4 separate regions of the Homo sapiens genome follow, and all the other regions are linked to region 2. Evidence: fine-mapped expression QTL. A gene starts in region 2. Each other region holds a variant in brackets. All regions are shown on one strand. Distances are from middle to middle. Region 1 overlaps AHCYL1 (adenosylhomocysteinase like 1). Region 2 holds the start of AHCYL1 (adenosylhomocysteinase like 1). Region 3 overlaps LINC01397 (long intergenic non-protein coding RNA 1397). Region 4 overlaps STRIP1 (striatin interacting protein 1).

Region 1 (8,423 bases), 33 kb after region 2:
TTAGAAACCTATGTTTTATGCAAAGTTAAATACCAGTGCACCACCTCGCTGGAGTACACCCTTTTGTAACTTTCCAGTGTAGCACCTGTTGGTGCAGAGTTGATAGGTATTGCTATCTTGATGAGGCTTGCTCTCCATTCCTGGGTGGCCCTTCTCTTCCTCACCCTGTCTTCCTACACTTCTACACAGGTGTTGATTGAGACACTCTGTGCCCTGGGGGCTCAGTGCCGCTGGTCTGCTTGTAACATCTACTCAACTCAGAATGAAGTAGCTGCAGCACTGGCTGAGGCTGGTAAGTTCGGTTTTTTCCCACCAACTTTGCCCCAAAATAGTTATCCAAACATATAACTTTTTTGTATCAAAATTGTCATTACAATATCATATATGTCTAGAGGCTATAAAATTGTGCATGATAAAAACCTCAACAGGAAGAAAGTGGATAATAAAATTAAGATGGATATCCATGGTGGAATATTATGTAGTCATTAAAAATGGCCTTTGAAAATAATCTAATGGCATGGGGTCATGCCCAGTTCTAGTGTTAGTTGAACGAGGAAGAATGTTAAACTATATAAGTGCCATCAATTTTGTGAGAGAGCACAAGTAAGAAGTACCTTTCATATTGATAGTGCATTAAATAATTTGGTATTCAGTATGGCATTGAAAATATATGAGCTATTTGTGAGTTTAATTAAACGTAAAATAATTTTTTATTATTCAGGCCAGGCCTGGTGGCCCACGCCTATAATCCCAGCACTTTGGGAGGCCGAGGCGGGCAGATCACTTGAGGCCAAGAGTTCAAGAACGGTCTGGCCAACATGGTGAAACCCCACCTCTACTAAAAATACAAAAGTTAGCCGGGAGTGGTGGTGTGCGCCTGTAATCTCAGCTACTCAGGAGGCTGAGGTAGGAGAACCACTTGAACCTGGGAGGCAGAGGCTGCAGTGAGCCGAGATCATGCCACTGCACTGCAGCCTGGGCGACAGAGTGAAACTCCATCTCAAAAATTAATAACAATAATAATAATTTTTATTATTCAAATATTCAGAAGAAAATCACCGTGAAGTTTCTTTGAGGACCTCTCATCTTTCTTTCTTTTTTTTTTTTTCTTAAGATGGAGTCTTACTCTGTTGCCCAGGCTGGAGTGCAATGGCGCAGTCTCGGCTCACTGCAACCCCTGCCTCCTGGGTTCAAGTGATTCTCATGCCTCAGCCTCCTGAGTAGCTGGGATTGCAGTGGCATGCCACCACACCCAGCTAATTTTTGTATTTTTAGTAGAGATGGGGTTTCACCATGTTGGCCAGGCTGGTCTCGAACTCCTGACCTCAAGTGATCTGCCTGCCTTGGCCTCCCAAAGTGCTGGGATTACAGGCGTGAGACACCACACCCAGCCGGACCTCTCATCTTTTTAAGATCCTCAGAAAGCAACTTTATAATACTTTTGGGTTTTTTTGTTTATTCTTTTCTGATAAGTGTTCACTGCAAAAAATTTAGGAAGTTCCCCAAAACCCTACAATCCCACTACATAGAGTATTTGATTAATGTTTTTCCTTTTCCTTTCTTCTACTTTACATAAATTCTAATATGTATACAGTTTTATAACCTAAATACAATATTTTCAGACGTAGTTTTCCATGTCACTGAAAACTTTGACAGCATCATTTGTAATAGTCATTCATATGGCTATGTGATTTCACCTCACTATTTTCCTAATGGAGAACATTTAGGTTGTTTCAAGATGTTTACTAATATCAATAATGCTCCAGTTAACAACTTTTATTAATTCCCACTTCATTTTATCTCCTTCTAAGTATAAAATTAGTCCAGAGAAAGGAACACTTTAAGGTTCCAAACTACTTTTAAAGCAAAAATTCCTTAATTTCTTAACCTAATTAATTTCTGAACCAAAAGTGATTCTTTGACTTTTGGCTCTGAATTTTTTCCCTTCTGAAATTGTTTCTTTTGCCTTTTTCTCTTCACATGGATCTCAGAAAGTGATTTGGTACAGGACACTCCTCAAAGGAGGAATCAGCTGATTCATTTCTGTCTCTACAGGAGTTGCAGTGTTCGCTTGGAAGGGCGAGTCAGAAGATGACTTCTGGTGGTGTATTGACCGCTGTGTGAACATGGATGGGTGGCAGGCCAACATGGTAATAATGCATATACATCCTACACTTTGACAATAGATTTATTTCCTTTTTTTCCCTCAAAGCATGGTTCCCTAAATATGTTTTGGATGTTTGGTCTTATGCACTGACTTTGTTGCTAAAGTGTTTAGCTTGATACCTATTCAGAATGGGTCTGAGTACTGAATGGAAAGGTGGGGGAAGGGTAAGACTAGCTGAACACATGGCTCAAACACACCAGAACAAAATAGTGGTGCTTCTTTGGAGTAGGATTCTGCTTTCTTTCCTTCCTGCCCCAGTTCTCCTTTTGCATTCAAAGGGGCTATATATTTCAAGACTCTAGACTAAAAATGAGTCTGTGATTAGCTTAATACTCATCACTGTAGCCTAAAGCAAACCTAGGAATCCTTTTAACCATTTTACACCAACAAATTTGACTGTATTTCCACTCTCTAAGCCTGCTCTAGGGAGCTCTGAGGAGTACTCTTCCAAAACATACAGGGCTCTCTTACTAGTACAGAAAGTGGGTTCAAAGTTCCCCCCAGCCCTAGCAGCCTGAATGCCCATAGAAGTCTTCTGGCTGTTCTATAGATCCTGGATGATGGGGGAGACTTAACCCACTGGGTTTATAAGAAGTATCCAAACGTGTTTAAGAAGATCCGAGGCATTGTGGAAGAGAGCGTGACTGGTGTTCACAGGTAACAGATTCTGGAGTAGCTGCCCCTTGTGTCCTTGCCTCAGCAAACTCTCCTGGTCTCTGTTAGGCTTTAGGACTGTGTTTCAGACTTATAACTAAATGGGAATATCTTCATTAGATAAAATTTTGAGTTTTTACTTTTGAAAAATCAAGTTGATCCTAGAAGGAAGTTATTTCAGGTTCTAGTTCATACATTTTTCTCTCCCATTTACTCCATTGAGTGATTCTCAACTAGTGTTGAGGGGCGGGTAGGGAATAAATGTATCTTGAAAAACTGTATTCAATATTGTATTATCATTTTATATTTGAAATATGAAAAACAATCCTATTGTAAAACTACATGTTATACACACTACAAAAAGTAAAACTGGGCAAAATATTCTTGGCTTGTTGGAATACTGAAAAGATATCTGAAAGAGTGTTTCTTGGGGGCACATTGCGCATGCTTACTCACACACACACGGAACCATATCAGAATCATTGATAGTCTTTGTTTATCAGAAGTAGGCATGGGTTTCTATTGAAAAATGCTGATCAAAGGAAATAACACTCCCTATAAAGGGAAGAGAAGTACATTTCTTCAATTGAAAGGCTTTTTTTTTTCTTCCAAAAAAGGGGTAAAGGGAGAAGAAAATGAAAAGAAGTGTGGAGGGATGACAAGGAAATAATCATGTTTTCTAATATCCTTGGGCAATAAATGAGACTGGGAAGGGCAGCATGGAACTTGAAGAGAATTAGGCAGATTTTGCCACAAATTATGTTGTGCCAGCTAACTTGGTTTTTGTTTGTTTTTGTGACCTCTTCTCTCTTTAGGCTGTATCAGCTCTCCAAAGCTGGGAAGCTCTGTGTTCCGGCCATGAACGTCAATGATTCTGTTACCAAACAGAAGTTTGATAACTTGTACTGCTGCCGAGAATCCATTTTGGATGGGTAGGTTGAATGTATATATATTCAAACTTCTAGGGGCTCTGGTCTTCCTTTGGCTTTAAAAGTTTATTAGAGGGACCATTTCATACTGAGCTCAACCAGCTTCCAATTGATATTCTCATGGGCATTGGCCCACACTTTTAACTTTGTGAAGAGGGACTGAGTTTGAGCTATTAACGTTTGAGTTGAGCCCTTGTCTGTTTCCACAGCCTGAAGAGGACCACAGATGTGATGTTTGGTGGGAAACAAGTGGTGGTGTGTGGCTATGGTGAGGTAAATAGCTGGGTCTCAGTGTCTCTTTCTTTTTGTGTACTTATTAGAAATATTGGGTAAAGGAGGCTTGTGCTGTCAATCTAGAGTCACTGATACAAGGTTTAAATTTTTTTAGATAATGTATCTCAAACAATAGCAAAAGCCTTTTATTCAGATTTATGAATAGAAACATACAAAATGAATTGAGTTTTCAGATTTTACCATTTTGCCTTGTGGAATAGATACTAGTATCATCTTCCCCAATTATAACAATAACCTTTAATGAGACTTAATTCAAGTGAATATATAGCATTTTAGCCCCACAAGTGACTTGCAGTAGAATTAAGGGTGGAATCTGAAATGGCATATAGTTGAATATCTCCAAACTGGAATAGGTCACATATTTTGTTGTCTTCAGCAATGACCCAAAGAAGTTCCTGAGCTACGAGGGTATCCTTGAGTAGATTCTTCTCAAGTAAGAGAATAGGAAATTAGAGGTTGCTTAGAGTAAGTTGCTTTTGCTTAGTCTTGTTTCCCTGATGAAAACTGCTATGCAAAGCCCCAGTCCTTCCTATGACATGTCTGCTAAATTACCTCTCTAACTGAGGTTCACAACGTAATCTGGGTCTGTTTCTGTTCTGCTTGGGATTGGAGCGTCTGTGCAGCTGCTCACCAGATGACAGGCTATTTCATGAAGGTTAATTCCTGTCTCACAAATAACCTACCTACCCTAAATATCCATGACTTAATGAACCTAACGACTTGACCTTTCTTTTGTTCTGCAGGTAGGCAAGGGCTGCTGTGCTGCTCTCAAAGCTCTTGGAGCAATTGTCTACATTACCGAAATCGACCCCATCTGTGCTCTGCAGGCCTGGTAAGAACAGAGTGATAATACTATTAGATTCACTCTAGGTGCTTTATGTTATTGAGAGTTCATAATTGAGTATATTAATCATTTTTGCAGAAATCACCTAGGGGAAGAGAAGGCTAGGACTGCTCTGTTCTTCTCACTCTAACCCTAGGGCTCTCTGAGAGCCTCTTGGCATTTTTCCTTCCTAGAGGGAGTCTTGGGGACTCTGAAGAGGCCAGTGTATATAGTTTAGCAGAGCTTATCACTCACCATTCCTGTGAGGTGGCACTGGATCCAACTAGAAGGGGATCTTGTCTCATTTCATGACCATCTTCCCTCCCACTGCCTTCTTGCTTTACTCATAGTGTTCCTTTCTTTTCTTCCAGCATGGATGGGTTCAGGGTGGTAAAGCTAAATGAAGTCATCCGGCAAGTCGATGTCGTAATAACTTGCACAGGTAAATAACTTGCATAGAGAAGTGTTTATTCAGAGGCTAAATCTTGAAAGTAGTCTGAGTGACTTTCATACAAAGGAGGTGAGACCTCTGTTCAGTATAAAGGTCTCAGAACTAGAATAAGCTATCAGAACCTTAACATGTTTTCCAGAGTAAAAAACTTTTTTCCCTGGTGACTTTTTATACTGCTTGATCTGAAGACCAGATAGCCTAAGGAGCGGTTATGCATGTCTTCTCTCAGAATGTCTACATGTTCTTTAATGCCAGCAAGCCTCTGGTCTCCTATGTTCTACCTGAAAGCCAGCCAGTACCTTTGTTGCCCGGCATCTCTTTCCTTAACCACCCATCTTTTCTTTTAGGAAATAAGAATGTAGTGACACGGGAGCACTTGGATCGCATGAAAAACAGTTGTATCGTATGCAATATGGGCCACTCCAACACAGAAATCGATGTGGTAAGGCTTCTCTCATTTGTTGCTAGGCATTTCTCTACTACCTTTCATTAATAACCATAGTCAACTGTGCTTTCTTCCTTTCAGACCAGCCTCCGCACTCCGGAGCTGACGTGGGAGCGAGTACGTTCTCAGGTGGACCATGTCATCTGGCCAGATGGCAAACGAGTTGTCCTCCTGGCAGAGGTACACACAGAGAAGGACCCTGGCAGAGCAGCACAAGCAGAGTAGTTAGATCTATGAGGGGGGAGGGGAGGGAAACAAATATTAGGCCTATGTTTCCCTGAATTTTATCTTTGGAGAGAGAGATATTTCACAAATTGGTCCCCAAAATAAAACCACTTTAAAAAAATCTACTTTTTACTAAGTAACACTATTTCCTAACCACAGCTGATTCTTTAACCTTTCAGACTCAGATGGATTTGCAGAAAATAGGAAAAAGCCTAGAGTCCTGATCTGGAACTGTAATTCTTCCTCTTCCAACTGAGTCTAGAGGG[G/A]TGTAAAGTCCTCTCCCGCTTTGGCTTGACTTGTATGCCATTGGAATCTGAGACAGAGCTCATCCCAGGGCTCTCTCTTACCTTTCCAGGGTCGTCTACTCAATTTGAGCTGCTCCACAGTTCCCACCTTTGTTCTGTCCATCACAGCCACAACACAGGTATGTGGCAAAATGCCTGCTTACACTGCACTGCAATTTGTGGAACTGGGCGTAGATCAGTTCCAGTGAGGGTGTACTGTACTATGTTCTCATCATCCTATTCTTTTTTGATGTAATAAATTGTGGAAACAGGTATTCTTAAGTATAGAAAAGAGTCACTAAGTCAGTATTCGTTGAATTGGCTGTTTTAGTTGAGAATATAATGTTCCAGCTTAGTTTTATTTGATTTGTTCTTTCGTTAGGAACTAAACAAAAACAACAAATCCTCTTAGGATGTGTGCTGCCCTTTAGTATAGGCAAAGTCCTAGGTACTGTGACTGTGGTAGATCACTGTAGTACTTACCCAAATGCTGTTTAACCTGGTTTTATTTTTATGTGCCTGTCTAAGAAATATTTTTGTGCTTTCTGGCCTTCTTTTCCCACCTTAGGCTTTGGCACTGATAGAACTCTATAATGCACCCGAGGGGCGATACAAGCAGGATGTGTACTTGCTTCCTAAGAAAATGGGTGAGTGAAAAACAGTGGAAATCTATGCAGACAGCTGCATAGTTTGGTAAAATGACTGCCATGAAAGGCATTGGATTTAGAGTCAGAGTTCCAATTCCTGTTCCTGTGCTTACTGGTTGTTTGACCTCAGGACAAGTTCTAATCTCTATGATCCTCAGTTTCTTGATTGGTAAAATGAAAATAATACTACATACATTGTAGAATTGTGTGAGAATCACAGCTAATGAGTAACAGTGCTTAACACAATGGTTTAGGGAGATGTTCTTACTCTAAGTAGCCTTATGAAGTTCAGTAAACTTCCCAGTGCAGCTGAGTACATACAGCCTTGGAACAAAATGAGAGAAACAAACACAGGTTTTATTGTCCATTTTCTGTGAGGATATGCAAACCATCCAATCTCTTGTAAGCAACCCATGCTGTGTTCATGTGACATAATACATCATCTCTAGTCCTTTGCCTTTCTGCACGGTGTACCCATCTCCCATATCTCCTTGGCTAGCCCAAATCCCTGACTTCTTAATGCTAAAATACTTCTTGCTCTCCTCTCCTCCAATAGCTTACTTCAGACTTTTTTTTCAGTGTATAATTATAAAAGGGAAGCTTATCTATGGAAAAGTAAAAATTCTGTGCCGACTACCTTAGAAATTCATGATCCTAAGATCCATGGATCTTATCCTAAATGAGTGTTATTGACACAGGGTCTTTCTAGCTTACTGGTGTCCACTTTGATTGCTAATTTGACTATAATCTAGTTAAGGAGGTTGCTGCAGGAAGGTAGGAGTAGCATGTGACATGTGGGCCACTGCAGGGAAGCCCCCTGCTTTGCCAGAGAAGGATAGAGAGGTAAAAGCCCACTCCCTTTTGTTACCCTGGTAAGTGGCTTTTCTGAACGCACTGTACATGTGCTGAGAGAAGCATCCTGCCCAGAAAGGCAGCTTTGAGGTTTTTTTTTTAATTAAGCAAATATTTCAAGTTGTGGATTCTTTCAGAGTTATTCCATCCCTTGTCTGCTTTCTTAAAAAAGCTTCAAATGAAAATGGGAAGTTATAACTTGAGAGACATTTTGAAAAGGAGTCTGCTCTCCTGCCACTTTGCTCTTCCTAGATGAATACGTTGCCAGCTTGCATCTGCCATCATTTGATGCCCACCTTACAGAGCTGACAGATGACCAAGCAAAATATCTGGGACTCAACAAAAATGGGCCATTCAAACCTAATTATTACAGGTAACCTGGGGAGAAGCAAGTGAAAAGCTCTTTTTCCCAGTATTAAACCAAGCAGGCTAGCCTGCTTCTGACATAAAGATCAAATGTTGTACCTGATTTTGAAGAATACAAGAAATCTGTTCCAGGCCAGGCACGGTGGCTCACGCCTGTAATCCCAGCACTTTGAGAGGCCTAGGCGGATGGATCACTTGAGGTCAGGAGTTCAAGACCAGCCTGGCCAACATGGCGAAACCCTATCTCTTAGCCGGGTGTGGTGGCGGGCACCTGTCATCCCAGTTA
Region 2 (7,215 bases):
GGAGCTGGTGCTGTGACCCATCTTCGCCTGTTTTGCTTGAAAGCCATCCCCACACCCACTCCGAAACCACCTCCCTCCATTCCATTATATTGCACTAGTTGGAAACAATTCAAATACCGAACAATAGGAAAACAGTTAAGCAAACTCATAAAGCAATATGACAGAAAGCTTGGAAAACATGGACAATAATAACAAGTATGTCAATGCTCTCCGTTCGGGTCATGTGTTTTTGAAATATTGTAATTTGATCAAAGCAGAATACAAAAGGACATGAACCTACCAATCACAGGTATGTAAAAATGAGTTTCTGCAAATTGCTAAGAACTAGGAGTGAACTTAACAAGATGAAAAGAAATTTTTAAAAAATCTTCATGGATTTTTCTTTCCTATAATGTTCAAAATGATAATAAAGAGTAAGTGATCCTAATAAATATGACAATAATAAGCAGAGGGGGAGACAGAGAAGGAGGAATGTTTTCCCACTGGAACTGGAGAAGGGGAAGGAGAAAAGGCTGAGGGTAGGGAGGGAGGGAGCTCGGTGGGAAGTAGGAGCCAGGAAGCCTGAGGACCAGCACCCACAGCCACAGAGGTGCAACCGGGAGCCCACCCTCTGGGGGTCCCTAAGGGCCAGCGAGGTAGGTGACCAATCTGAAGTGGTGCTCCAGGGCACCTTTCACAATAATTACAATGTCAGTGGTGCCTCCTAGAGCTGTGCAAGGTAGCAGTTCTGGGACAGAAAGAAGCCTGGAGCTGGAGGGTTTGCCCATGCTGGAGAGCTAGAGACAGAGCCACTGCCCTCTTCACCTTCTTCCGAACTTCCATTGTCACCCAAGATCTCTGCAGTTTTTCTGCACTTTCATTCCAGAGGGCTAACATAACACCTGGCCGACAGGAGGTGAAAGGCCTTCAGGAGGAGCACAGCCTCCCCCTGGTGGGGAGCCTGACTGGCAGGGAGCGGGCAGTTCCAAAAGGTGCCAACCTGGGCTCCCCTGAGACTCAGGGACAGTGCCCTCCACAGACATATCAAACTCAACATGTCCCAAGCTGACTCCTCTCAGCAGCCCCCCTCCACCCCTCTAGCCACACTTGCTTCTCCTCCTGTGCTCCCCAGCATGGCAGACATCACCACCACCCACCCAGGGCTTAACACGCCCTGCAGGATCTGGCCCTGGCTTCAGCGCTCACTTCACCCTGCTTTGCACCCTGTGCCCCACCCACATGGGGATATTTACAGTTCCCGTAATATGCCAAGCTGTTTCCATCACCATGCCTATTCTCAGGCTGTTTCTTCAGCCTGGAGAATCTTCCCTCCCTTGCCCAGCTGCTTATCTGTCAAGACTCAGCTCTGGCAGCATCTCCCTCTGTGTCATCCCTTTGCCCTCCACTGCACCCCACCCCCATCACCTGTCCCCACGTAGAGATCAGCACCTCAGCTTATTTATCTCTGTAGTCCCGACTGACATCTAGCCCTGCTGCTGGCACTTCTTCGGCACTCAATATATATTTTATAAATAAAAGAACAAATGACTGAATGTAGAACATCAATTTGGGGGTGGACAAACAGTGAATCTGATTAACAAGACCAAGCCCACGTGTGGTAGCCCAATGCCACTACATTTCTGGTGACAGCATCTCCCAATTCACCACTGCCCTTAGGCCACTCCTTTCTAGCAAGGGTCTTCGCTCCAGGCCCTTGGAGACTTCCCACCACCACACACAGCAGGTGCATCTGTCTTTGGGTCCCTGTTCTTCTCCAATTGCCCCGTGGGGGGTCTCTCACCTGTGTGTGGATGCGCTGTTCAGGGCAGTGAGCTTGCCAGTAGAGGTGCTGAGTCAGGTGGGTGGGTAGGCTGAAGACAAGTCATCTCTTGGCATTCATGAGAAGCAATCGCCTTAGCTGTGCCATGTGAGGCTATCTTAGGATGGGTTTTGGGGGTGGGAGACAGGATGCAATGATTCTCACGGATGTTATGTTGTCACACTCCCTGGCTGGGTGAGCTCTTTGCTCTCCAGCACACACGTGATGGAAGGGATGGCAGCCACCCATGCCCCCTGCAGTGGCTGGTTTCCAAGAATGTCCCGGGCCCCTGGCCTCACTTGAACCACATAGGCCTAATGCTTTCCACCAGGGTAGGGGGTGCTGCCCTTCCCCTTTCCAGTCTGAGTCCCCGAACTCTCCTACATCAGCTCATCAACCTCCCCTCAGGCCAGCCACTCAGGTGAGTGGAGTCTGACCTGCTGATCTCCTTCTTAGCCCAGACTGCTAAGGTACTGCATGCTCTAGGCCTGGCCCTGTCTGTCATCCTCTGTAGCAGCAGCAATAGCAGACAACACTGTGAGCCTGGTGCTAGGGCAGACCTGGTCCAGGAGGAGTAAAGACTGAACTTCAATCTCCAGGAAGCTCACAGTCTGGATGCTTAAATGCACAGCAGAACTGGGGGACTGAGAGACAACATGTTTAGACAAAGTGAGTTCTAAAAATCAAATCCAAAAGACAGATACACTGATGCTTCTCTTTAAAAAAAAAAAAAAAAAAAAAAAAAAGATCTTCTTAAGTCACACATTTTTCTACTATAGGGACTTGAGATTTCATCCCTGGTTCCAATGGGTTCTGCCTCGAGTCTTTGGGCAGGCATCTCTGATCCCTGGGCTCTGCCAACAGTTTGGGCAAACCCACAAGGATGAAAGCCACTGTGAGCCTTATGTTCAGAGAGTCCTTAGTGCACCAGGTGTGGTTCCTGACCCCTAGCTGAAAGATGTCAGTCTGGCACCCTCATGGATGAACCTGGTATTCTGGTCTCCATCTCTGTTCCCGTTCTGCTACAGTGATGCCCCTGACAGGGAAGTGTGAGTGCTCAAAAAAGTGAGCAGATGAAAGAATACAAACAGTTCAAGACCAAGGTCTGCAGATGTGCAAAGGGTGCATTCTTCCAGGCACTTCTACAGCCCTTTTCAAACAGACAGTCTCATGAGGCTAGGTGGCTGGAACACAGGATTCCCTGACTAAGACTTTTAGGGCCCTAGAGGTGAATATTTCACACTCTCCCCAGCCCTGAACACAAATCAGTGGGGAAAATGCCATTTCAAACCAAAACTTCCTTCTTGAAAGGGTATGCCCTGTTAAAAACCTGGGAGGTTTCTGGATGTTAAAAGGTGGTCCTGGCCAGGCGCGGTGGCTCACGCCTGTAATCCCAGCACTTTGGGAGGCCGAGGCAGGTGGATCACGAGGTCAGGATCCGAGACCAGCCTGGCCAAGATGGTGAAACCCCGTCTCTACTAAAAATACAAAAATTAGCCGGGCACGGTGGCGCACGCCTATAGTCCCAGCTACTCACTCAGGAGGCTGAGGCAGGAGAATCACTTGAACCCGGCAGGCGGAGGTTGCAGTGAGCTGAGAGCACTCCAGCTTGGGCAACAGAGCGAGACGTCATCTCAAAAAAAAAAAAAAGGTGGTCCTGGGGAGGAATTTAGGGAAAGGGCACTGGGAAGACTGGAATTGCTCAGCACAGCAGAGGAGAATCTGGCTTCCCAGAGTCTATCAAGGAAGGAAGGATGAGGTGCAGAGATGGGAAGGGAGGAACAGGAGGAAGCTAGATTAGATGGCAATGGGCTAGGGAGCGTGGTGGGATCTTGTGGCCATTGAGAAATCCCCGGGTGGTAAGACAGCCAAAATAACTTTTCAGAACATTTCAGAAATGTGTTCTTAAATTGTTTGCTGTGTGATGTAATCTCTCCCCTGTGACCCACAAACCTTTATTAAAAGTTTTACTACATGTTACAGCCTTATTTTGTAGTTGTTTAGCATGGGGTGGGGGTTGAAAGGAGAAGCGGCTGAATTGACCCCAGGAGCTACAGAAACAGTCACAAGACCAGAATAGTGAATAAAATGCCAGACAAGGCAAAAAAACTAGAGCCAGAGGTGACCATGAAAATCCAAGTCCTCCCAGTAATGGACTTTCCACAGGACATGGTAATTGGAGCCAATGTCATTTGAATCTCAAAGGACAAGCTACCTCAGCTGACATTAGGATACAAGCAGGTTTTGCCTCTCCAGCTGAACTAAGCCTTGCAAAACATAAAATGCGTCACATGTCCTTTTGCCAGCAGGGCCTCAGCACAGGCACTGCACATAGTAGGCCCAGTAAAAGGGTGTGAGCAGTCCATGAATGTCCTGGATGCCCACTGAGAGCTGGAAGGGTCTAATGCTTTGGTGGAGCAAGGACCGGAAGGCCATTCTGGCTGGGGACTTCTCCATCAGCTCTCCTGGTCTCCACCCTCATACCCATCAGCCCTATCCCAATGAGGGTTTTGTAAACAGGCAAGGCCCAGTCGGAGATGGTGGTGGAGGAAGTCACAAAGCGTTGTGCAGAAACCAGACTACTCTGAGTCAGTTCTGCCCCCTATGAAGTCAAAAAGACAGGCACGGCCCCTTGGGAAGGAGCTTTAATCCAAAGGGCCTGGGGCTGGGCCAGTGAGTGAGTGGGCTGTCTCGAGCCCCGGACATTTCCTAGGAATCGCTGTAGGATGTGTCGTGTGGGGCTCTGGTCTTTGCTCCCAAACACCCCTTTCATGCGCCTCTGAGGCCTTGCCAGGAACCCCGCAGCCCAAAGACCCTCCGTTCCGCAGCATCGTTGCATGAACCTCGCGCTGCTCCCAGGGCTGATGGTGCCACCTGGTGGCACAAAGGGTCCTGCTCACCCTGGGAACTTCGCTCTCGAGCGGGAGAGGAACGGCTTCTGTGGCCCAGCCCAGCGTGGTGACGTCACGACAGAGTGCCCTTTCTCCCCGCCTCTTCCCCCTCCCGGGAGCTGCCAGTACTTGACGTGGCGTCACCGCCCTCTACCCTCGCTTTGCGTGCGTGTTTGCGTACAGCGGAGGTGGCGGCGCGGGCAGGTCGGAGCTCGGAGCTGCTGTTCTGGTTCTCTTGTGGCCGCCGTCGCTGTCCGGCTGCCTTGGGCTGCCGAACAGACAAGGCGTGGGCCACAGCACCTCAGAAGCCGACGCAGCTCGACGCAGGGGCCGGCAGGAGGGTGGGCGATCGCGTGTCGGAGGGCGCCGCGCGGGCAGGCGGGCGGGCGCCAGAGGGGGAAAGAGGCGGGGGCGGCGGGTCAGCCGCTGGCCGGGCCGGCCGGGGAATGTCGATGCCTGACGCGATGCCGCTGCCCGGGGTCGGGGAGGAGCTGAAGCAGGCCAAGGAGATCGAGGACGCCGAGAAGTACTCCTTCATGGCCACCGTCACCAAGGCGCCCAAGAAGGTGCGGGGGCTCTGGGTGGCGGCGGGGGCTCGGGCTCCGGCCTCGCGGAAGGGACGCGAGCAAGCCCGGGCTCTGGCTAGTTTGGGACTTCTGGGGGTGACTGGGGACGGCGGAGGTGATGTAGGGGGTGGCGGCTGTGCGGCCCCAGGCCTCTCCCGGGCTGAAAGGCCGCCTCTGACCTCGCTTTCCTTTGTCCCTCGGCCCAAGTCCTCCGGGATCGTTTTGAAACCCGACAGGGCCAGGCCTTAAATTTGCGACTGACTTTTCCTGGATGAAGGGCCTCGAAGACGAGAGTGGGAGGGGGTGAACCAACTCAGCTGACCCTTGTGACCAGTCCGGGGGCATGGGGTGTACAGAAAATCTCCCTTCAGGTGAGTGGGTAAATCTGGCAGAACTTCCATCAAATCTTTGGGAGCAGTGGCCGCTTTATCCAACAACTGCGTGATAGCTGGGAGGCAAGAGAAAAGAATGCGTGAAGCTAGCTCTGATATACAGGTGAAAGCGATGAGGGTAACATGAAACTGAAAATCTATGATTTTCACTTTCTACAGCATTCCAATTACTTCGAAATATGTAAGAAATTGACATTTGGAGGTTGGTGACAGCAGACACTGTCATGGATACAGGTGGATCCTAGAGTCATGTGAATAGATCACTTAGGCATCCCTGGAGAAAGGAGCTTGGGTGGGTTGGAGTAGTGGGTGGTAAGGGAAGATTGCTCACTCTTGACTGTACTTTTGAGGCAGAACAAGTTTGATCTATTGTGCTGTAGGTTGACTCAAAGGACACCCTTCGAATTCTCTCATAAATGGCAACCTTTGGAGATTTTAGTCTGACTAGCTCTCCGAGTGGTGGAATTGGGATCCTTATTGCTTTCTCATCATTTACTGCCAACCACATCTTGATTTTCCATACACCTGGCACCCAGTTAGCAGTAGACCAGAGAACCTTTACAAAGAGGTGACCTTCCTGAAGCCAGTGAGAACCCAGATAAATGTCTCCCTTCTTTATAAAGACAGAGTCTTACAAAGCTGTCTCTGCCTGCATCCAGTGTTTAATGGGATGCAGGGCTGAACAAAGCAAGGGCTGCAGGAATAGTTAAGTCCTTGAGGCTTCAACTAGTTAAGCTGTCTTAAGTGGGAGAGATGGCTCTTTTTTTTTTTTTTAAGTGAATTAACCTGCCACTCCAGAAATCAAATGCAAGATCAAAAAAGACGAGTCGCCATTGTGTGCTTTCGCTGTTTTCTCACAAAATTAAGAATTTAATTCCTTTAAAAGATTGTGGAAGATTCCTTGACTCTGAGGCATCTGATTAACTTTAGTGCTGAGAGTTCAGTTGACTGCTTTGTTGGGACAATGACCCTTTGCAATCTGCACTATTCTTTGGAGAAACAGTCACAGTCCTTATAAGCAGAATGATTGAGGGTGGGACCTTAGATGAGTTAGAGGAAAGAATGGGAAAGCCCTAATACCTGAATTTCCCAGACTCTGTCTTCTTTGCTGTTACTTGCCTTTATGTTAGTAAATCTGTATTCTTGAAAGTACCACTGTTGATAAGACAAAGTCTATATCGTAGATTGTAAAAACTCATTAAGGCAGGGATTCTTGTTCACCTTTGTATCCAGTGTGCCTAGCTTTGTACCCAGCATACAGTAGGTACTCAAATATTAATTGCTCACCTGGCTAACTAGTAACTGAGATGTCCATGTGGCCACCTACCATGAATAACTATCCCTTTTCCTCTCTTCTTCCCAGGAGGAATATTACTAATGTGTATTATTGTCAGGCCAAGTGCTGATGATTTTAGACTTATATTGCATTAGCTAAAAGAAGCAGGCTCTGCCAGGAATGTGGGAAGACCCTGTTTTAAGTTTCCATTTACCAGTAAATGTGCCCCACCGTGTTTCTTATTAATCTTTCTCTTCTAAGTTTTATTCTTTAGCATTTACGTAGTACTTTG
Region 3 (5,000 bases), 110 kb after region 2:
TACTGCCAGCTCTTCCTCAGCCACACTTTGACTCTTTCACAGGGCCAGAGACCCATCCTGTGCATGCAGCTGTGGTACCACTGGAGCCCTAGATGTCTCTTTTCACCAAATCTTCCTTTTCCTGGATCCCCTTCTATTCTTTCTGCATGGTGACAGTTTGCAGTATATAAACTTCATGCTAATGTCATAGTAGGTCAAATTGGTTCCAGCTGCTCTCCTGGAGACACAGCGGCGTCCTAAGGAGCACCAGAAGACCTTTCTTTCTTCCTCAAACATTTATGGAACGTTACTATGGGAAGGCACTGAGATGGATGCCAAAGTCAGTTAAACATCTCCCACCCTGGAGCTGTGCAGTGTCTACACCACTGGGGAAATGAGACATGTATGTCAGGAACTTAGGCAGAAGCCTGAGTGAGTGTGAAGGATGCAGGAGAGAGAGAGATAAACAAGTGGCTACAGCGTTCAAGGGCAATGAGATGACTCTGGCTGGAGACATCTGAGAAAGCTGTGTGGAGGAAGTAGTGTTTGCTCTGGGTCCTGAAGGACATGCAGGGTTAGGCTGCATGGTGATGGGGAATGTTAGACACTGTGGTAGGCTGATGGGGAGGATATCCTGAGGCAGAGACACTTTCTAGTGCCCCCTCCCCAAACCTGACCTGAGTGGTGGTTGGAACAAGTTCATCTCCTTCAGTACATTTCACCCAACATTTGTTGAAATGAGTAACCAAACTGGGCACGTGTTGGTCACTGGGCATAGGAATGGAGGAAACAGATTCCTGCCTTCCTGGCTCCTGATGGTGTAGATCGCATTCCACAAATCTGCCAGGGGCTAGTCAGGGCTGCTGGGGCAGTGGACGGGGAGGCCAAGTAGACAGTGGGCAGGCCCCACCTCCACTTCAGCCAGACCAGTTTCACTTTTTCATTTTTCATGTACTGGGTTTCCATGAGGAGTTTCCTTTGGACGAAAAGGGTGGTTTTGTGGCAGAGAGAGAGTGAAAGAAGGAAAAGCCCTGGTTCACAGGCACCTGTGCAGTATGAAAACTAAGTGAATAATCTCTGGTTCACAGGCACCTGTGCAGTATGAAAACTAAGTGAATAATCTCTGGTTCACAGGCACCTGTGCAGTATGAAAACTAAGTGAATAATCCCTGGTTCACAGGCACCTGTGCATTATGAAAACTAAGTGAATAATCCCTGGTTCACAGGCACCTGTGCACTATGAAAACTAAATGAATAATCTCTGGTTCACAGGGGCCTGTGCATTATGAAAACTAAGTGAATAATCCCTGCTTCACGGGCGCCTGTGCACTATGAAAACTACCTAAGTGAATAATCACTGGTTCACGGGCACCTGTGCATTATGAAAACTAAGTGAATAATGCCTGGTTCACAGGCACCTGTGCACTATGAAAGCTAAGTGAATAATGCCTGGTTCACAGGCGCCTGTGCACTATGAAAACTACCTAAGTGAATACTTAACGAAAGATTGAGAGCCTGTCAGTAACCAAAGACTATGATTAAGCCATAATCCAATTCTGGACACCTGAGTTTCCATTTACCCCTCCCGCCCTCCACCACGTCCCCCTACCCTGTCCCAGGGTGTCTTCTGTGCCTTTCCTGTGTGTCTGTGGCCTGTGGATAGAGAGTGTACCGGATCGCATGCTACCCTTTTCTCTGGCATGGTCTTCCCGAGTCCTGCTCTTTTCTCCCACGCCCCAGCTGGTTGGGAGTGGCTGGGTTCCAGCTATTCCCAGAACACTCAGGAATCCCATCCTAATGATATCTCAAAGCCAGACCCCAAAGACGGGCGTCCACTGGGCTGAGCTCATACTCCCTCTTCTGTAATATCCCATGAGTTGCAATATGATAAAACGCCACCAGGGTGCAGGACAGAAACATGGGGCTCTGCTGTCTGAGGGCCAGGCTTATTTTCCACATAAAGGGTGGAGAGCTTACTGTAAGCACTGCCCTGTGGCCCCCACCTGCAAGAAGCTTATGGTCCCTCAGTGGCTTCAATGATACAATCCCCTACTCCTTAACTGGGGAGAGGAGTCTGTTGGAGTTGTAGCTGGAACCCCAAGTCTCTTCCAGCACTGCTCCACTTCCTTGCCCCCACAGCACGTCTCTGTGTGTTTCACCTACTTAGCTTC[T/A]GCCCAGGGTCCCCACTGGCTTCTCCACTGGCAAGGACCGAGGCCGAAGGAGCCTAGGCTTGGCTCTGCCTCCGCAAGAAGCCCCCAGGCACACATGAGGCATATTGACTCTTGTGGCTTCTCTTCATGTGGGACCTCTGAGGGAACAGGATGCTGGAGCCCAAGGCCAAGGCCTCTCTGCTCAGGGAAGACAAACCAGCTCCTGTCCCACTCCTCCATCCTGGGGACCCCCACCCCCACGCTAGACTGGGGTCTGCCCACAGGCCTGCCTACTTTCCCCAGCTGAGGAGAGGACAGGTCAGCCCCACTGTGCTGGGGCAGGGAGAATGCTGCTTGACAATGAGGCGTGCCCTGCGCATATGGGTGGGTGCTGGCAGTGGTGGCGGGAGGCTGCGAGCATTGACAGGTGACCGAGGGACCCCCATCTCCAGCTGGCCCTCAACACCTTAGCTCCTCAACCAAAAGACATGTATTAAGCACCTCCCTGCACAGGGCCCTATGCAAGGCACCATGGCAGGTGGGACAGTGATTTAGACACCATCCCCACGTGTGTCTGTGGACCCCACACGGGTGCTCTCATCTGACTCTGGCAGGCAGTTCTGTGTGTGGACCACCTAAGACTGTTGAGGGAGGGCTCCCTAGAAACATGCCCCGGGGGATGGGCTGGTGGGGCAGGCAGCAGGGGAGTAAGTGTCCCTTGTGGCTTTGAAGGAAGCATAATCTCCAAGCTCTGGGATAGCAGAGAGCATGCCTGTCGTTTCACTGCTGAATTCCCAGAGCCTGGCAGCAGGCCTGACACACAGTAGGCATTTTGTTAATGTTTGCTGAATGAATAACTAAGGGGGAGAAGTAAGAAGGCATTGAGACAAGGTGGTGGTTGAGCCTGGGACTCTGGAGGGGGTGCAGGTGGCTGGGTTCTGACAGTCCCCTAGCCAGGGCTGCTTCCTGGGTGACCAACCATCCCAGTATTTAATGGGAACTTCTGTGTCCTGGGAGGCTTCTCAGTCTGGGGCAAGCCTGGGTGGCTGGTCACCCTGCTGCTCCTCCCCTTGGGAATGGGCCATACAGTCAGTGCTCCCAGCCCTTTCCCTCCCTGGCCCTTCCTCCACACCCCCTTTCTCTTTCTTCCCTGCCCAGCGGGGTCTCCTCTCAGGAGACCTAGCCTAGCCTTGCCCCAGCCACAACCCCCCAGCCTGACCTCCGGGGCTGCCACTTCCCTTTCACTCGGCTACTCCTGATAAGGAGACTGGAAACAGGTTTGCCCTTTCACCTCTGCATATCTCTCCTCCAGCCTGCGGGTCCTCACATCCTGGGTCATATCCTGCGGGGGCCTGTGCACCACTGCATCAACCCCTGCTCACTTGCAGGCTACCAGCCCGAAGCTTTAGGTGGGAGAGGAGTGTGGGATGAGGGGCAGCAAGGCCATAGCCCTTGGGAGATGGGCCTCTCCTGTCTTGGCTGAGGACAGTCCAGGGGCCTGCTCCCAGGGCACAAAAGCTGGCTGGATAGGAGGGCTGAGCTGACTGATCCCTCCCTGGGATTTTGACTGACATTCTTGATGGAATTGACCGGATGTTTCTCCTTCACAAGAGACACAGCCTTAGGCAGGACAGCTGTGCCTTCCTCAGCCCAGCTGCAGCTGGAGGTGCTGAGAACCCAGAACCCACACTTCCTACTTTTGGTATAACATTGCTGGGCCAAAAGGTCTCCTGAGAAGGGCTGTGGGGGCTTCCACAGGGTCCTGGAGAGGCCGCAGGAGTCGCATCTGATTATCTCCTGACCTCATTCCTCCGGAGCTTTTGTCTCTGCTTGTGTCTGTGGACCCCACACGGGTGCACTCATCTGACTCTGGCAGGCAATTCTGTGTGTGGACCACCTAAGACTCAGAGACCCCTCAGGGTCGGCCCTAGGCCAGGCACTGAAACGTGCCAAAACCCACTCATTTTTGCAGAGTGCACCATCTGGGAACACTGCTGTCCAGAACTTCTACTCCCGTCAGAATGTGATCAGTTGCAGCTATTCTTTAAAAGAGTAATCAGTAATCTTTGCTGATTCAGAAGTCATTTCATGGATTTGCAGCATTTAGAGGGATACCATTGCTAACAACATCAATTTTGTGGCCTTGAGATGGTAAGAATTATCAGAGAACTTTTCCCTTTGGTGAAATCCCTGCACGGCAAATCCCAAAGTGGCCTGGAAGAGGGCAAGTTATCCACCTGCAGCCTGCAGGGAGCTGTGAAGGGAAGGGGGATGTTCCATCCTTGGTCTTAGGGTGGCTTGAGTGATTATGAGATTTGTATATGAATATGAGGCTCAGAGCTCATATATATATGTGTATATATATGTGTGTATACATATATATACACACATATACACACACACACACACACACATATATTTGAGACAAGGTCTCACTCTGTTGCCCAGGCTGGAGTGCAGTGGCACAATCTTGGCTTACTGCAGCCTCCATCTCCCAGGCTCAAACAATCCTCCCACCTCAGCCTCCTGAGTGGCTGGGACTACAGGAACGTGCCACCATGCCTGGCTATGTTTTGTATTTTTTGTAGAGACGGGGTTCTCACTTTGTTTCCCAGGCTGGTCTCGAACTCCTGGGCTCAAGCAGTCTGCCTGCCTCGGCCTTCCAGTGCTGGGATTTCAGGCAGAGCTCATATTTTTGTTTTAGCATCTTTTAGAGCTGTGTTTTTCAGACTTTAGTGACTTGAGTAATTTTCATGATTTTTGCCACATCTGAGTGTCACTTGTATCATTAACATTTTTCTTTAACTCATGCACAGACACACACACACACACACATCTTTTTAAAGGAAAATTTACATCCTTACTATAAAT
Region 4 (8,423 bases), 59 kb after region 2:
AGAGTGGAAGCAAATGCCTTGCCTTCTCTGCACTTGTGAGACCTGGTGTGCAATGCAGACATGGAACCAATGGTGACGAGACTTTGTTCTGACAGAGCTTTACAGCTACACGGAAGGGCCAGAATTCCTGATGAATCGAAAATGCTTTGAGGAGGACTTCCGGATCCATGGTGAGATGATTTCCCACACTTCTTGCTTCCTTTGCCCTGCATAACGAGAGCTGCAGGTTTCTTTTAGGCATCTGAATGACCTGAGTCATCCTGGAACAGCCTGAGAAGCCTGCTGAACCCTGATGGTTCAAAGCCAGATACATGTAGAGTGGGCTTGTGGCACATCGGTGGGGGCTTTTCAGAATGTGCATATTAGGGGAGAAAAAAAAATCATGTGATTAAAATTGCACCCAAAATACCAGCGTTTCAGTTTGGAATCAAATTCATAGAGCAGCAGTATGATCTTACCACTTACATAGGGTGTAACTTATCTTTCTGGTCCTATGGCAGTCCTGAATTTGGTGAGTTAACATGGGTCCATGCCATTGTGAGGATTTTTCTAGGCTCAGGTGTAACTGGTTTCTTGCCCTGCAGTGACAGACAAGAAGTGGACTGAGCTGGATACCAACCAGCACCGGACCCATGCCATGAGGCTCCTGGATGGCTTGGAAGTCACTGCCAGGGAGAAGAGACTCAAGGTGGCTCGAGCAATTCTCTATGTTGCTCAAGGTATTGAGTGGACCTCCCCAGGGTTCCCTGGCACCTCTGCCCACTCAGATGCAGGGAGGGGCTCAGTGAGTTGAACCCTGCATTGCAGGCACGTTTGGGGAGTGCAGCTCGGAGGCAGAGGTGCAGTCCTGGATGCGCTACAACATCTTTCTCCTCCTGGAGGTGGGCACGTTCAATGCTTTGGTGGAGCTTCTGAACATGGAAATAGAGTGAGCATTTTTGAGAGGCTGAGTAGGGAAGGGGAGGCTGGGATGGGAAGGGGGACAGAGCTTGCAGAACTAACTGGCTTTGAGAGGGTTAAATGGGGCAGAAGTTCTGGTCCCAGGCTGTGTTCTGACCACCTGGGTTGAATAACGGAGTTGGTCACTTACACCTTGAAGATTAATGGAGACTAATGACAGGTCCCTGCAGCTCCCTGATGCCAGAGTTTTTACACCAGACAGTGCAGGCCCTGCCCAGGCCTGGGGTGCTCCTCAGAAGGAGACTCTTCACTTTGAGCTCTCTTTTGAACCTGCAGACACTGCTGTGTTCGCCCTGCAGTTTCCGCCTTGGCAGGAGGCCAGGCACAAGACTGACATATGGGCTCAACCAGTGCCTGGCCTTGCCTGTGTCACCTTTGTCCAGTGGACAGGTCAGCTGCTGCTCATCTAAGGATAACACCATCAATGATAAAGCTAAGACAGCTCATTGAGTGCCTGTGTGTCCCGGGCATTGTTCTCAGAATATTACATGTGCTAATTCATGTTAAGGATATAGGTACTACTGTCATCCCCATTTTACAGATGAGGAAACTAAGGCGCAGTTAGAGCCAGGATTCAAACCGTGGCAGTCCAGTGCATGGCTGGGTTTTTTGTTTTTGTTTTTGTGTTTTTTTTGTTTTTGTTTTTGTTTTTGAGAGAGAGTCTTGTTCTGTTGCCCAGGCTGGAGTGATATGGCGTGAACTTGGCTCATTGCAACCTCCACCTCCCGGCTTCAAGCTATTCTCCTGCCTCAGCCTTCTGAGTAGCTGGGTTTACAGGTGCCTGCCACCACACCCAGCTAATTTTTGTATTTTTAGTAGAGATGGGGTTTCGCCATGTTGGCCAGGCTGGTCTCAAACTCTTGACCTCAGGTGATCCACCCGCCTCGGCCTCCCGAAGTACTGGGATTACAGGCATGAGCCACCATGCCCAGCCATGGTCTGGTTTCTTAACCACCGTGTCCTGTGGCCTCTTGTGCAGTCCAAGCACGTATCACAGCATTTTGTTTCCCCATTGGTCAGTACTTGTCAGGGACATCACTTATCTTCCTTCTTGGAGGAAGATGCTGACTCTCAAAATCTCCTGCAGCAACAGTGCCGCCTGCAGCAGTGCTGTGAGGAAGCCTGCCATCTCCCTGGCTGACAGCACAGACCTCAGGTGAGGCGAGCAGCAAGCCTGGGCTCCTGAGCGTTAGTCAGAGATGAGATCAGAGCAGGGTGTGGGAGGCTGTCTGTGGGTGTCATTGCTGTGTGTGCTTCTGTACACATCATCTGCATGTGTGATGGGCTCAGTGTGAATGATTAGTAGGAACTGCTGAGGGCTCGTCCTAGGTGGGACTCTGGGTTGAGACTCCCAAAGGCAATCCAGGGTCAAGTGACTTACTAGAGCCACAGCTAAGTGTGGCCTCCTACTCACACTGTTACTCAGGACCTGGTCGTGGGGTATTTTGTATTTGGATGAAACACTTGATGGTGTTCCCTGGACTCCCACCTTCTTGTGTACACAGCTTGATGCTCATCTTCATTGGGTTAGACCTGACAGCTTCCTAATGTTTCATGGCTGCCCAGGAGCTCACAGCAACTGCTGACCACCAAGATCACCCCTCAGTTTTTGAGGGTTGAAATCTGGCTCTTTTTATGAATTTGGAAGTTTTTAGACTAGGTGGTTGTAGTGTTGCCTCCCGGGTGTTAGGATCCCTGGGCGTCACCTCTCAGCTCCTGCTTTCCATTTCCTCATCATAAACCCTGTTTTTGTTCTCACTGTGACCCTGTTCTGCTTTGACCCTACAGCTCGCTACCACCTCTGTGGTTTTTTTCTTTTCAGGAAGCTTAGGGTGGTAAATGCTTTTGGCCATTCTTGTTCATACTCATTTATTCAGATACCATTTATTAATAGTAAGCCCCTGCTTTGTGTAAGCACTTTGTTAGACACTAGGGTGCTCCTTTGACCCCCCCATCCCACTCCATTGTGAGCTGGCTCTTGTCCTCAGGGTCCTGCTCAACATCATGTACCTGATAGTGGAGACCGTTCATCAGGAGTGTGAGGGTGACAAGGCTGAGTGGAGGACCATGCGGCAGACCTTCAGAGCCGAGCTGGGTAGGACCCTGGGGATCCTCTCTAGAGGCCCTGCCTGGAAGCTGAGGCGGAAGGCTTTGGGAGGGTCCTGATACCTTTGTGTCACCTCCAGGCTCCCCGCTGTACAACAATGAGCCATTTGCCATCATGCTGTTTGGGATGGTGACCAAATTTTGCAGTGGTCACGCCCCTCACTTTCCCATGAAGAAAGTTCTCTTGCTGCTCTGGAAGACAGTATTGGTGAGCACCTCCTTGGAGGAGGAGAACGGTGCTATGGGATGGGCAGTAGGGAGACTGTTCCTTGAATATCCTTTTGAATATTGAATTATGTGACTGTAAAACTGCTTTGGTAAAAAAAATTATTTAAAAAGCTGCTAAAAGGAGATGACAAAAGAAGGGCCACTATTGTCCCATTGCAGCCAACGAGGACATAGGCCTTGAGTCAGAGTAGGCTGTTGGCTCTCTGACCCCGGAAGCTGTTTTCTGTCATAGAACAGCTCTCCCCCAGACAAGTTGCCTCTCAGCAAGCAGCTCTGGACCTGGAGTTTGTAAAGGGATTTGAGGCAAAGTTACAGCTGATGTAATTGGGGCCCTGGTTGGATATCACTTAAAGGGGCAAGAGTGAGCCCTGAGCCAGCCTCCATTTTCTTCAGGGTATGGTGTCAGCCCGACTCTGTGTCTAGGTAGGGAGGGACTGGGTGCCAGAGTGGGCCGTCCAGCACACTGGGCTTGGAGC[G/A]TTGTTAGCAGCCAGGCCATGCCAGGAGGCCTTCCCAGGAGGAGTGACATGGGGAGGCGGTGGAGGTGAGTTGGGCCTCTGCTACACTGGGGCTCATCCTTCCTTTCAGAATGGGTCAACTCTGGAGCCAGGGCTCAGTAAGTATAGGATTTCTTAAAAGTCATTGACACATTTTATCTTGGCCACACATTCTGTTCTTCATAAAGCCTTGCTAAGGCTAGAGAGGAAAGCTGAATTGCTCAGAAACAGTAAAACTAAGCAGTCTAAAGCTGGATGTTGCTGGCGTTTCTGCTTCTTGGGAGATGTTTAGATGAAGCTTTTTTTCTTCTTCTAAAGTTGAGCAACCAACAGTATTTCTAATTTGACTTTGAAAGACTTGCATGTACAACTTGTGAAACATGAGTCTCACCAACTTTTCTAGGAACTTGCAGGGTTAGGCTCTTTGCTTCTTTTTAAATTGAAGAGTATGTCATAGGTGCAGAGTTAGTGTATCTGCACTAGGGTCAGTCAGCCTGCATCTCCACTCTTTCCTTGTTCCTTTTTCTCCTTTCCCTTGCGGATGTCACGGAATTCTCCTTGGGAGTGGCTTCAGTCCATTGTTCAGGAGTTGCCTGGGTCTCTATAAAGACATGGGTCATGATGTCATGAATGTTTCTGAGCCTGACACAATGGTCAGGGGCCAGCCTGTGGACACATTGACCCTGGCTCTGCTTCCCTGTCTGTGATGCAGTGCACGCTAGGCGGCTTTGAGGAGCTGCAGAGCATGAAGGCTGAGAAGCGCAGCATCCTGGGCCTCCCCCCGCTTCCTGAGGACAGCATCAAAGTGATTCGCAACATGAGAGCAGCCTCTCCACCAGCATCTGCTTCAGACTTGATTGAGCAGCAGCAGAAACGGGGCCGCCGAGAGCACAAGGTGAGGACGACAGAGGTCCCTGTGACTCCTGAGGGCCCTCAAGGTGCATGCTTGCAGCAGCACAGTCCTTGGAGGAGCAGGGCTGCTGGAAATGATCTCTGATCAGCCAGTCAGAATCATGCCTCCACAGCGAGGATACTTTGTCCCCAGCTCTGGTCCAGTGTATGGTGAGTGCTCAGCACGTGGTGCTTTTGAGGGACTGGAGCAAGAAGTAGTTGATGGTTTGGCCCCCGTCTTGACTCCCACTGTGGTTTTTCCACTGTTCTTGCCTCTACTGGACACCTGTATGTGCTGTGTCTCCTCTGGCTGCACTTCCCTGGTCTGCGTCCTCAGTTGGCTCTTGTCTCATCTCCCTTCCCTGGTTTCAGGCTCTGATAAAGCAGGACAACCTAGATGCCTTCAACGAGCGGGATCCCTACAAGGCTGATGACTCTCGAGAAGAGGAAGAGGAGAATGATGATGACAACAGTCTGGAGGGGGAGACGTTTCCCCTGGAACGGGATGAAGTGATGCCTCCCCCGCTACAGCACCCACAGACTGACAGGCTGACTTGCCCCAAAGGGCTCCCGTGGGCTCCCAAGGTCAGGTGAGTCTCAGACCTCCAGAGCACTCATAGTTCCTGAGGCAGAGCCCTCACACCCTCAGGCCTGCCACCTGGCCTGTGTCACCATGTGTGGTCCTCTGCAGGGCAGGCTGACCGTGGCTCTGGGATGAGGCTCTCTTAAAGCACCCTGTGCTGTCCTGAGGGTCTCAGGGAGGCCGGCCTTGCTGGTCTCACACAACATGGCCCTCATGTGGCTACTGAGGCAGTAATTGGAGTTAGCTCTTGGTTAGATGTGCTAGTGAAGGGGGATAGGAAACAAATAAAAACAAAAGCATTTAAGCAAACATGTCTCCACCCATCCTGGGGTTGTGTATGGTTTTTAACAAAAATGATAGATTAAGGAAGAGTTTCTTTAGAGCCATAATGAAAATGTTTGAGATATATGTGGGTAAATCGATGGATGGGACGGTACCTGGAGATATATAAATGGTGTCTGTTTGATAGGCAGCAGCTTAAGAAATAGATGAACATGTGAGAGGATATAGAAGTCGCTTTCTTGATCCAGGTAAAGCCTCAGTTTTCAGTGATCTGTGAAGGGAATGCAAAACAGATCATCAGAAAATGCAAGGTATGCTGATTGTTTGGGATAGGAAAAGTGAGCTATATGAAAAATCAGTAGCCTATAGCTTTAATTGTTTAAAAGTTTTAATATTTAAGAAAGTCTGTTGACAAACTTGTTCATACTATCTGAATAAAGCATGTTTTTAAGTTTGATATATCCCTTTAATTTTATGAATAAACTAGTTAACATGTATTTCCAGGTTACTGATCCAGCAAAATTATAAGAAACATTAAAATTCTCTGAAAATTTCAGTTTTTTCCCTTTTTTCAAAGAGAAAAACAATTATAGGAGACTTCTCCTGGCTTCACAGTTTCTGGATGCTGTGTTTTTGTTAACTGTAACACTTTGAAATAGCATTTGCTAAAAACCTTTTTTCTTTCTCTCTTTTTTGGTGATGTGGCAGAGAGAAAGACATTGAGATGTTCCTTGAGTCCAGCCGCAGCAAATTTATAGGTTACACTCTAGGCAGGTGAGTAAAAGCCGAGTTCATTTTGCTGTTAGCTCTCCCGGCCTTTGGTGTTTGGGATCCCAGGTGATTTGATGTCGAGGCTCAACACAGGGCCTTCTTTATTCTCCAGTGACACGAACACAGTGGTGGGGCTGCCCAGGCCAATCCACGAAAGCATCAAGACTCTGAAACAGGTGAGTGGCTTTGGGTGAGCTTTTGGCTTGTTTGGTCCTAAGTGAGTAGAGTGAAACCAGCCTGTAGGGAGAAGCCTTTTAAGACTGTTGTCTGCCTGCAAGAACCTGGGGTAGAGGCCGGGGTGGACTTTGCAATAACCTTGCAAACAGTCTTTCGTAAGTTTTGCTTGTTTTATTATAAGTTTTACTTGTTTTAGCTGAGCTTTTGTTTGGGACTGACTGGGAAGTCTTTAAAGATTATATTACCTGACCACCGGGCACCAAGGCATGCACCTGTAGTCCCAGCTACTCAAGAGGTTGATGCAGGAGGATTGTTTGAGCACAGGAGATCAAGGCTACAGTGAGCTATGATCATGGTCCTGCACTCTAGCCTGGGCCACAGAGTGAGACCCGGATTCTTTAAAAAAAAAAAAAAAAAAAAAAAGGATTATATTACTTGACAGTTGTTGAAATTCTAAAGAGCTCAATAAATAGCCCTCCTTTTCCTTGCCCACGTTCTCAGGCGGTTGAAATAGAGGAGTAGGCAGATGGAGATTGTAATGCCAACTTTATAGCTCATAGAGCCATGGAGAATGAGGCTTAAGAACACAGCAGTAGTGTCCTAATACGTTGTTCCAGAATTAGGCAGAGTTACCTACCAGTCCCAGGCAGTGTGGGGAGGCTCTGCCAAGCTTGGTGGCGGGGAGGAGAAGAGAGCAGACTCTCAGCAGGCAGACAGGTTCTAAAGAGAAAAGAGAAGGGTGAGGACAAGTCCGCCCTGTGTCCCCTCCCATACTCTCCGATCAGAGAAGGGAGGAGTGAGTGTGTGGACGGGGCAGAGAGAGATGAGGGGTGTTTCGCAAACCCCTGTCCCTCCACACGGGAGAGAACATTAAGAGTGGGGAAGAGGCATCTCCCCTAACAGCTATCTGGAGTGAAACTGTTTTTATGTTTTTGAAATATATTTTTGGAATTTGTAGTACTAAGTGGTCTCTCTGCAGCTAGGCTTTTTGAGTACTTGATTTTGCTTTCAGTTTTTCTCCTGTTGCTGTAGCTATCTGAAAGGCCATTTCCCTCCTTTAATTTACTTTTTTCTTATCTACCATGGGCTTCTTACTGTAGTTGCAAGAGGAAGGGGCCCTTTTAGAAAAATATTTTGGGGCCAGGCATGGTGGCTCACGCCTATAATCCCAGCACTTTGAGAGGCCAAGGTGGGTGGATCACCTAAGGTCAGGAGTTCAAGACCAGCCTCACCAACATGGCAAAATCCCATCTCTACTAAAAATACAAAAATTAGCCAGGTGTGGTGGTGCACACCTGTAGTCCCAGCTACTTGGGAGGCTGGAGCAGGAAAATTGCTTGAACCTGGGAGGCGGAGGTGGCAGTGAGCCAAGATCATGCCACTGCACTCCAGTCTGGGCAACAGAGGAAGACTTCATCTCAAAAAAATAAAAATAAAAAATATCTGGGGTTTGGGATTTTAGCTAGGGATTTTTGTGGTGACTTAATCCTCTTTCAGAAGACTGTGTTTGAAGACAAATGTGTGGGGATTTTGCTAGAGTGCAGGGAGTTTGGCCAGAGAATGTTTTCCCCAGCCCTTCTTTTCCCATCTCTCCCACCAGCACAAGTACACGTCGATTGCAGAGGTCCAGGCACAGATGGAGGAGGAATACCTCCGCTCCCCTCTCTCAGGGGTAAGTTGGAGGTCCTCAGTCCGGGCGCGGTGGCTCACGCCTGTAATCCCAGCACTTTGGGAGGCCGAGGAGGGCAGATCATGAGGTCAGGAGATTGAGACCATCCTGGCTAACATGGTGAAACCCCGTCTCTACTAAAAAAAAAAAAATTAGCCAGCCGTGGTGGCGGGCGCCTGTAGTCCCAGCTATTCAGGAGGCTGAGGCAGAAGAATGACGTGAACCCGGGAGGCGGAGCTTGTAGTGAGCCGAGATAGCGCCA

Evidence for each region. PIP is the estimated chance that this variant, and not a neighbour inherited with it, causes the effect. A credible set is the group of variants that fine-mapping cannot tell apart.
Region 1: its variant is the best candidate, but not a certain one, in a credible set for the expression of AHCYL1 in whole blood (INTERVAL, PIP 0.61).
Region 3: its variant is the best candidate, but not a certain one, in a credible set for the expression of AHCYL1 in whole blood (TOPMed, PIP 0.64).
Region 4: its variant is the best candidate, but not a certain one, in a credible set for the expression of AHCYL1 in whole blood (INTERVAL, PIP 0.70).

Annotation. Positions count from the first base shown.
Region 1 is chr1:110,012,708-110,021,130 of GRCh38, forward strand. It overlaps AHCYL1 (adenosylhomocysteinase like 1), which reads left to right. Exons shown (of 17, transcript NM_006621.7): 5 at 190-292; 6 at 2,056-2,150; 7 at 2,718-2,824; 8 at 3,637-3,753; 9 at 3,960-4,023; 10 at 4,788-4,876; 11 at 5,239-5,309; 12 at 5,666-5,760; 13 at 5,845-5,943; 14 at 6,344-6,412; 15 at 6,841-6,919; 16 at 8,024-8,144. Among named protein-coding and RNA genes, the nearest start is that of STRIP1, 18 kb to the right of the region's middle. RefSeq lists an enhancer at 5,311-6,510. The variant G/A (reference allele first, on the strand shown) is at 6,255.
Region 2 is chr1:109,979,918-109,987,132 of GRCh38, forward strand. It overlaps AHCYL1 (adenosylhomocysteinase like 1), which reads left to right and starts at 4,848. Exons shown (of 17, transcript NM_006621.7): 1 at 4,848-5,255. The coding sequence starts at 5,136. RefSeq lists silencers at 5,074-5,143, 5,324-5,393.
Region 3 is chr1:110,086,378-110,091,377 of GRCh38, forward strand. The region is part of intron 1 of LINC01397 (long intergenic non-protein coding RNA 1397); the gene reads left to right. Among named protein-coding and RNA genes, the nearest start is that of LINC01397, 6.2 kb to the left of the region's middle. The variant T/A (reference allele first, on the strand shown) is at 2,151.
Region 4 is chr1:110,038,588-110,047,010 of GRCh38, forward strand. STRIP1 (striatin interacting protein 1) reads left to right here. Exons shown (of 21, transcript NM_033088.4): 3 at 96-170; 4 at 585-719; 5 at 808-928; 6 at 2,048-2,116; 7 at 2,949-3,055; 8 at 3,147-3,274; 9 at 4,501-4,683; 10 at 5,052-5,269; 11 at 6,253-6,318; 12 at 6,428-6,491; 13 at 8,093-8,164. Among named protein-coding and RNA genes, the nearest start is that of STRIP1, 8.2 kb to the left of the region's middle. The variant G/A (reference allele first, on the strand shown) is at 3,771.